2 linked regions of the Homo sapiens genome follow. The protein of the gene in region 2 purifies or fractionates together with the protein of the main gene of each other region. This does not show direct contact. Each region holds a gene or a part of one and is shown on either strand. Other genes may lie near its edges.

Region 1 (2,612 bases), on a different chromosome or scaffold from region 2:
AGTCGACTCAGTTTCCCCTATTTTACAGATGAGGAAGCCAAAGGTCTAGAGAGGAAAGAGACCTGCTCCCAAGAGCCCAGAATTTGTTAAAACCAAACACTGGAGCTGGGGCCTGGCTCCTTCAGCCTAATGTCCAGTGTTCCACACTGTAGCACCTGTGAAATTTATATATTGATAAATCTTGAATTTCCTTAAGTAATTAAGTTGAAGTGAGTTAGTATGTGTTCATTTTCAAATTGGAAAAAGTCAAAATTTATCTTTCAGTATTATAATGAAGGGTTGCATTAAAAAATGGACTTTATAACAATATATTAATACCTACATATACTTAAGTCTGTTTTACTAAAAATTGTCATCATGTATTTTGCAAACTTGATGAATCTATTCCCAGGGTGGCTCATAAGAGTACATGTTACGTTCAAAGAGATTTTTAAAAACCAAGAAAAGGTGTTGGTTGCTGATCTCTGCCATAATTTTTTCTAATTAAAATTTCTATTGAGATAATTGTAGATTTACATGCAATTATAAGATGATTTTTAAAAATCATATTTATGTTTCAGGGATGTGATTAAATAATCCTTTATAATGTGTTAGAAAATCAAATTACCCAAAAATTGTCCATGTTTTTTTGGAATGAGGGTTGGCAAACTAGTGCCCACAGGTCAAATCCAGCCTGCCACCTATTTTTATAATAAAGTTCTATTGGAACACAGCCATGCCCATTAATTTACAAATTGTCTCTGGATGCTTTTGTGCATTGACGGCAGAGCTGAGTAGTTGTATCAGAGACTTGAAAACTCGAATATGGCTCAAAAGCTTAAAATATGTACAGAAATATTTTGCCAGCACTGATTTTAAAAACTGTACAGTGATCAAACCTGGCCGTTTTATCACAAAACAATTTTTATATTTTCAGTACGTGATGGTTCAAGACATGCTCTCTCCATCCCCCATGGAACGACCTGAAGCTATAAACATCATTGAAAATGCTGTATTTGAGGACTTGGACTTTCCAGGAAAAACAGTGCTCAGACAGAGGTCTCGCTCCTTGAGTTCATCGGGAACAAAACATTCAAGACAGTCCAACAACTCCCATAGCCCTTTGCCAAGCAATTAGCCTTAAGTTGTGCTAGCAACCCTAATAGGTGATGCAGATAATAGCCTACTTCTTAGAATATGCCTGTCCAAAATTGCAGACTTGAAAAGTTTGTTCTTCGCTCAATTTTTTTGTGGACTACTTTTTTTATATCAAATTTAAGCTGGATTTGGGGGCATAACCTAATTTGAGCCAACTCCTGAGTTTTGCTATACTTAAGGAAAGGGCTATCTTTGTTCTTTGTTAGTCTCTTGAAACTGGCTGCTGGCCAAGCTTTATAGCCCTCACCATTTGCCTAAGGAGGTAGCAGCAATCCCTAATATATATATATAGTGAGAACTAAAATGGATATATTTTTATAATGCAGAAGAAGGAAAGTCCCCCTGTGTGGTAACTGTATTGTTCTAGAAATATGCTTTCTAGAGATATGATGATTTTGAAACTGATTTCTAGAAAAAGCTGACTCCATTTTTGTCCCTGGCGGGTAAATTAGGAATCTGCACTATTTTGGAGGACAAGTAGCACAAACTGTATAACGGTTTATGTCCGTAGTTTTATAGTCCTATTTGTAGCATTCAATAGCTTTATTCCTTAGATGGTTCTAGGGTGGGTTTACAGCTTTTTGTACTTTTACCTCCAATAAAGGGAAAATGAAGCTTTTTATGTAAATTGGTTGAAAGGTCTAGTTTTGGGAGGAAAAAAGCCGTAGTAAGAAATGGATCATATATATTACAACTAACTTCTTCAACTATGGACTTTTTAAGCCTAATGAAATCTTAAGTGTCTTATATGTAATCCTGTAGGTTGGTACTTCCCCCAAACTGATTATAGGTAACAGTTTAATCATCTCACTTGCTAACATGTTTTTATTTTTCACTGTAAATATGTTTATGTTTTATTTATAAAAATTCTGAAATCAATCCATTTGGGTTGGTGGTGTACAGAACACACTTAAGTGTGTTAACTTGTGACTTCTTTCAAGTCTAAATGATTTAATAAAACTTTTTTTAAATTAAGTATGTTGACTCTTATTTTGAGGAGTTAGTCCCAAAATGGTAGATTTTCTAATTTATAAAATGGGATCATAGATCTAGGAAGAGTCATAAACCTATCCTCAAAAAAACTTCTTCCTAACCCATTTCAGACAGGTATCTTTTTCATCATTTCCCAAAGACTTGGCAGGCCCTTTCAAAATTCACAAGATCCATAATTGACAGACATTTGCCCAGTACCTACCCTGTGCCAAGGACTGAGAATATAGAGGACTTTCCCCTAAAGGGAGAGCTCTCAGAGAAAAGGGCTGTGGTGATGCTAGTTGTATTGATACCGAGGTGTATCTGACATGTGCCACATCGAGGCATGTGGCAGGCTGGGCTGATGGGGCATGAACCAGCTAGACACAATCTAGAAAGGTCAAAATGCATAGCATCTCCATATTACAAACAAATAATGTCTGCCACGCAAGGTTATGAGCAACTTGTACGCTGGAAAAACACTTCCCAGATCTTTGTGGCTG
Region 2 (4,023 bases):
TATCCCCCGTGCCCTCACCCAAGCTTTGTGGCGCACTTGGGTGGCGTGGCCGTGGGCATCACCCTGGGCGTGGTGGTCCTGAGGAACTACGAGCAGAGGCTCCAGGACCAGTCACTGTGGTGGATTTTTGTGGCCATGTACACCGTCTTCGTGCTGTTCGCTGTCTTCTGGAACATCTTTGCCTACACCCTGCTGGACTTAAAGCTGCCGCCTCCCCCCTGAGGGCTGGAGGCCCAAGGTCGGGGAGGGGAGGGAAAAGCAGCACCCACAGGGAGCGCCTGCGAGGTTTCTTCTCATCACCAGCTCAGCTAGGCCGGGCAGACAAGGACAGAAGACTCTGGGCCACTGTAATGTTTGTGTTTAGATTTGGACACACAGTGGAGACCCTTTTCTGAAAGGCATCTGGCGGAGGAGTTGATGTGGCTGCTGTCGTTTTTCTCGGCTGCTCTGATGACATCGGGCCAGGGTGAAGGTCTGGGGTGGGGTGTGAGAGTGGCCCTCCCTCACCTGGGCTGGGCTTCTTCCATGGGGCCAGGGGGTGCCCCCTCACTGCTGCGGATTGAGCAGCAGCTTCTTCCTCCTCCTCTACCCTCAGAGACCCTAAGAGACATGGGAAGGCTCGAAGGTTGTTGCGTCCAGGCATGGCCCCTCTCTAGCTCAGAAATAATTGCAGGCCATGTGGTGTCTCCTTGACACCTGCTGTGTCTGGGGCTCCAGTAAGAAGAGGGCCTACTGGACATGTCAGCTGTGACCTGGCTGAAACCAGGGTGCCCTCCTGGGCTGGTTGGTGTGCACCGGGGCATGATCTGTTGTGCCTGGGTTGGGCAGAGCAGGGAGCCTGTAGGCTCTAGGACCCCTCTTGTGCTGGGGGTACCCAGTGAGAGGGACCCATGCAGGGGGAATAAACTTCATTCCAAGTTCCACCCTGGAGAAGACAGACCCAGGACCAGCTTCAGACTTCTCCCTCCCTTTCTTCCAGGATATTGGCATCTCACACGGGTGCCCCAGCCTCCATGCCCAGCCTTGTTTTAGGGTCTTTTTCTTTCCTTTTGCTGCCCTGACACTACTTTGTGCCTCTCTTTGGTTATGGAGACAGTGTTTTGAAACATTCATGCGTGTGTGTGTGTGTGTGCGTATATGTGTGTATGTGATGGGAAAGGTAACTGAGGCACGACAGCGCCTGCAGAGAAGGCATGGAGGATGCAGGGGGCCCATGTGGGCATCCGTGAGAGGTGGCAGACCGTGGTGTGCTGTGGTTGCTGAATGTCCTTGCTTTGACAAAGCCTGCCCCCTTCCTTCCCATCTCCTGTCCCTTCCACACCTGCCCCTGAGCATCACTGACCGGTGGCAGAATGGCCCTGCTGGAGGGAGAGCTCAAGCCCTCCAAGGATCCCTGGATGCTGAGGTTTGCCAGGTTCAGCTCTTGTTTCCGTCTGAGATGGCCTTCATATCCAAAAAGGTTCCATCCTATCTCCCTTAGGAGAGAAAGAGCTTTGGGGGCGCAAGAGAGGCTGGGGTAGGAATGTTGAGGCCATGTGTCCATTTAAGTTAGGGGGACAGGAGGCTACAGGAAGAGGAATTCCAGTTTAGTTGGAAAACTTTGCCTCAGGAGAATTGTTGGGTGCATGGATGAACCTCAGAGGGAGGGCAGCCAGTAGCCTCGGAGGCTTGGATGCGGGAGAGAACATGGTGGTTATCAAATCCACCCCACCCCATTACACAGGTGAGAAAACAAGATGGAGGGAATGACCCTCCTAACAGGAGCTGGTGCAGGCCCCGAATGGAGGGCATGAGGATGACCTTTGACAAAAGATGACACTCCCTTTATCGTGCTCTTGGAATTCTCAACCACTGACAGCCCAGAAGAACAAAGAACGCCAGGCCTGGGAGGAGGCAGGGGGGCTGGGCGTGTCCAGAAACAGGGGCAGGAGTGTGGGAACGGTCTTCCTCCAGCCTGGTGCCCATCCTGGCCCTTGAGTGTAGCAGGGTCCAGGGTCAGTCAGGCCAGGCATTTGGGGTCTTGGGCCACAGTGGCTTCCCATCCTGGTGACTACATGTAAATGGGCTCACTCACTCACTGGCAGGCGAGGCCCAGCCATACCGCATCTTGGCCCACTGCTAAATAGATTGCCCTGGCCTCATCCACATATGTAGTTCCCTAGGTCCTGCTCCCCTGCACCAGTGCCATGCTGAGGGCCGCAGCCTGTGGCACTGTGGGCCCACGCCTTTGGCGGTGTTGCGTCAGCCTGGGGCGTCTTGTGTGTGCCCTGCCCACCGTTCTCTGCCCTAGTGATAGAAAGATGTAGATGGAAGTCAGTGCCTCAGAGGAGGAGGCTCTGAGGCTGTGGAGCTGGGCTCAGGGAAGACCAGGGGAGGATGCAGAAGGAGTCAGGACATTGCTGCCTCTGCCTGGGCTGCAGCCGCACTAAGCTGAGCGATGAGGTCCTTTCCTGGAGGGATGGAGAATCCCCTCCAGATTCCTGTCCTGGCCCCTGGGGATTCTGTGGTGTGGGTGGAATGAGCAGAGTGCCACCTCTGTCTGGTATGACCTGGAGAGGGGGCTTCCTCTCTTAGGGGTGAGAAAGCATTGAACTAGAAGATTCTAGAAATCCCTCATAGAAGCACTCAGCTCCCTCGGGGACTCCCAGGGAAGCTTGTTACTGAGAAGGACAGTGGAGGCGGAATCGTGTCTCCCACCATGTTAAGTGTGTCCTCTGCTGCCAAGGACCCTCGTCTACACCTTAGACCACCAGCCCCAGCTGTTCTCTGTCAGCACACCCACCTCCATCCCCTCTCCCAACCATGACTTCCAAGCGGGGCCACAGGGTGGGGTCATAGGGTCACTTCACCTGACCCAGGCCTCTCCCCAGGTCAGGAGGCAGCTGTCTGGTCAGAGGGGTTCTCTTTGTGGCATCTGGCTTTCTCCTCAGCAGGTCCCACCACCCTCTCAGCAGCACTTCCCCATGGCCAAGGCTGGCCGTGTCCTCTGTGCCTCTTTCCTTGTCTGAGGTGGCTGCCAGCCCAGGGGGTGGTGTGTAAATCTTCAGGCTGGTGGAGGTAGGTTGGCCTTTTATCCACAGGATACAGAAACTGAAAGCTGGGGAATCCCCAAACAGCAGCCATAGACTCACTGGCTCTCATTAAACGGGAGAGGAATCACAGAAACTGGGGAAGGGAAAACAAACCTTCAAAGGAGAAATTTCGCTTTAATGACACCATTCATCATTCGTTTTTTAATTAGGAAAAGCTCCCTAATGAGGCTCTTTTGCCAGCTAATAGGACTCTCGATTTCCATGAGAACCATTCTTGCCCAGAGGATTAGGGGAGCTGTTGCTCACCACACCAGGATCTTCCCCCAGCGTCCAATTTAATTTGCAAATACGTAATGCAGATTCCCTGGGTGCCGTGAAAGCCTTTCCTGGCATCATTCATGTTGCTCCCCGTGCTGGCTGGAAAGCACGGTTCTCCTCTGCCTTAAAAACAGTGCCCAACAGTGAACTGCCCCTCCGAGGACTTGAGTAAGTGGAAAAAACAAAACACAGACTGCAATGTTTGTTTCTAAGTATTTTTGTATTGTGTACATTCTGTATATTTTTGTTGTAACATATTATTTGAGCACAGATTCCATTAAATATTTTTTTTCTTTTTCCAAGCCATTGGTTATTCAGGAAGTGACCTGAAGGGCTGGCATTAGGGCCTGTTTCATCTGGGTCTGGGTCAGGATGGGTGGGAGAGGGTGAACAGCAGCGGTGGTGGATCCAGGATTTCTATAAAATACAGATTGGGGCATCAGTGCTTAGCACCAGTCTGTAGCTGTGTGCATCTTACTTAACTTTTCTCAAATCACTGAACTCTTTTGAGTGGTTGATGAAAGCTGTGATTTCTCTTCCCATAAAAATGTGTATGTAGGACGGGCATGGTGGCTCACGCCTGTAATCCCAGCACTTTGGGAGGCCGAGGCGTGTGGATCACCTGAGGTCAGGAGTTCAAGACCAGCCTGGCCAACATGATGAAACTCCGTCT

What was found.
Region 1: the proteins of RHBDL3 (region 2) and EIF2AK3 purify together in Homo sapiens (affinity purification with western blotting, with the first as the bait; one study listed by BioGRID). This does not show direct contact.

The regions. Positions count from the first base shown.
Region 1 is NC_000002.12:88,556,241-88,558,852, reverse strand, and holds the end of EIF2AK3 (eukaryotic translation initiation factor 2-alpha kinase 3 isoform 1 precursor), read left to right. Parts: intron 1-916; coding exon 917-1,117; 3' UTR 1,118-2,112; downstream 2,113-2,612. UniProt on the Homo sapiens protein: Metabolic-stress sensing protein kinase that phosphorylates the alpha subunit of eukaryotic translation initiation factor 2 (EIF2S1/eIF-2-alpha) in response to various stress, such as unfolded protein response (UPR).
Region 2 is NC_000017.11:32,321,008-32,325,030, forward strand, and holds the end of RHBDL3 (rhomboid-related protein 3), read left to right. Parts: coding exon 1-222; coding exon of another isoform or gene 223-395; 3' UTR 396-3,652; downstream 3,653-4,023. UniProt on the Homo sapiens protein: May be involved in regulated intramembrane proteolysis and the subsequent release of functional polypeptides from their membrane anchors.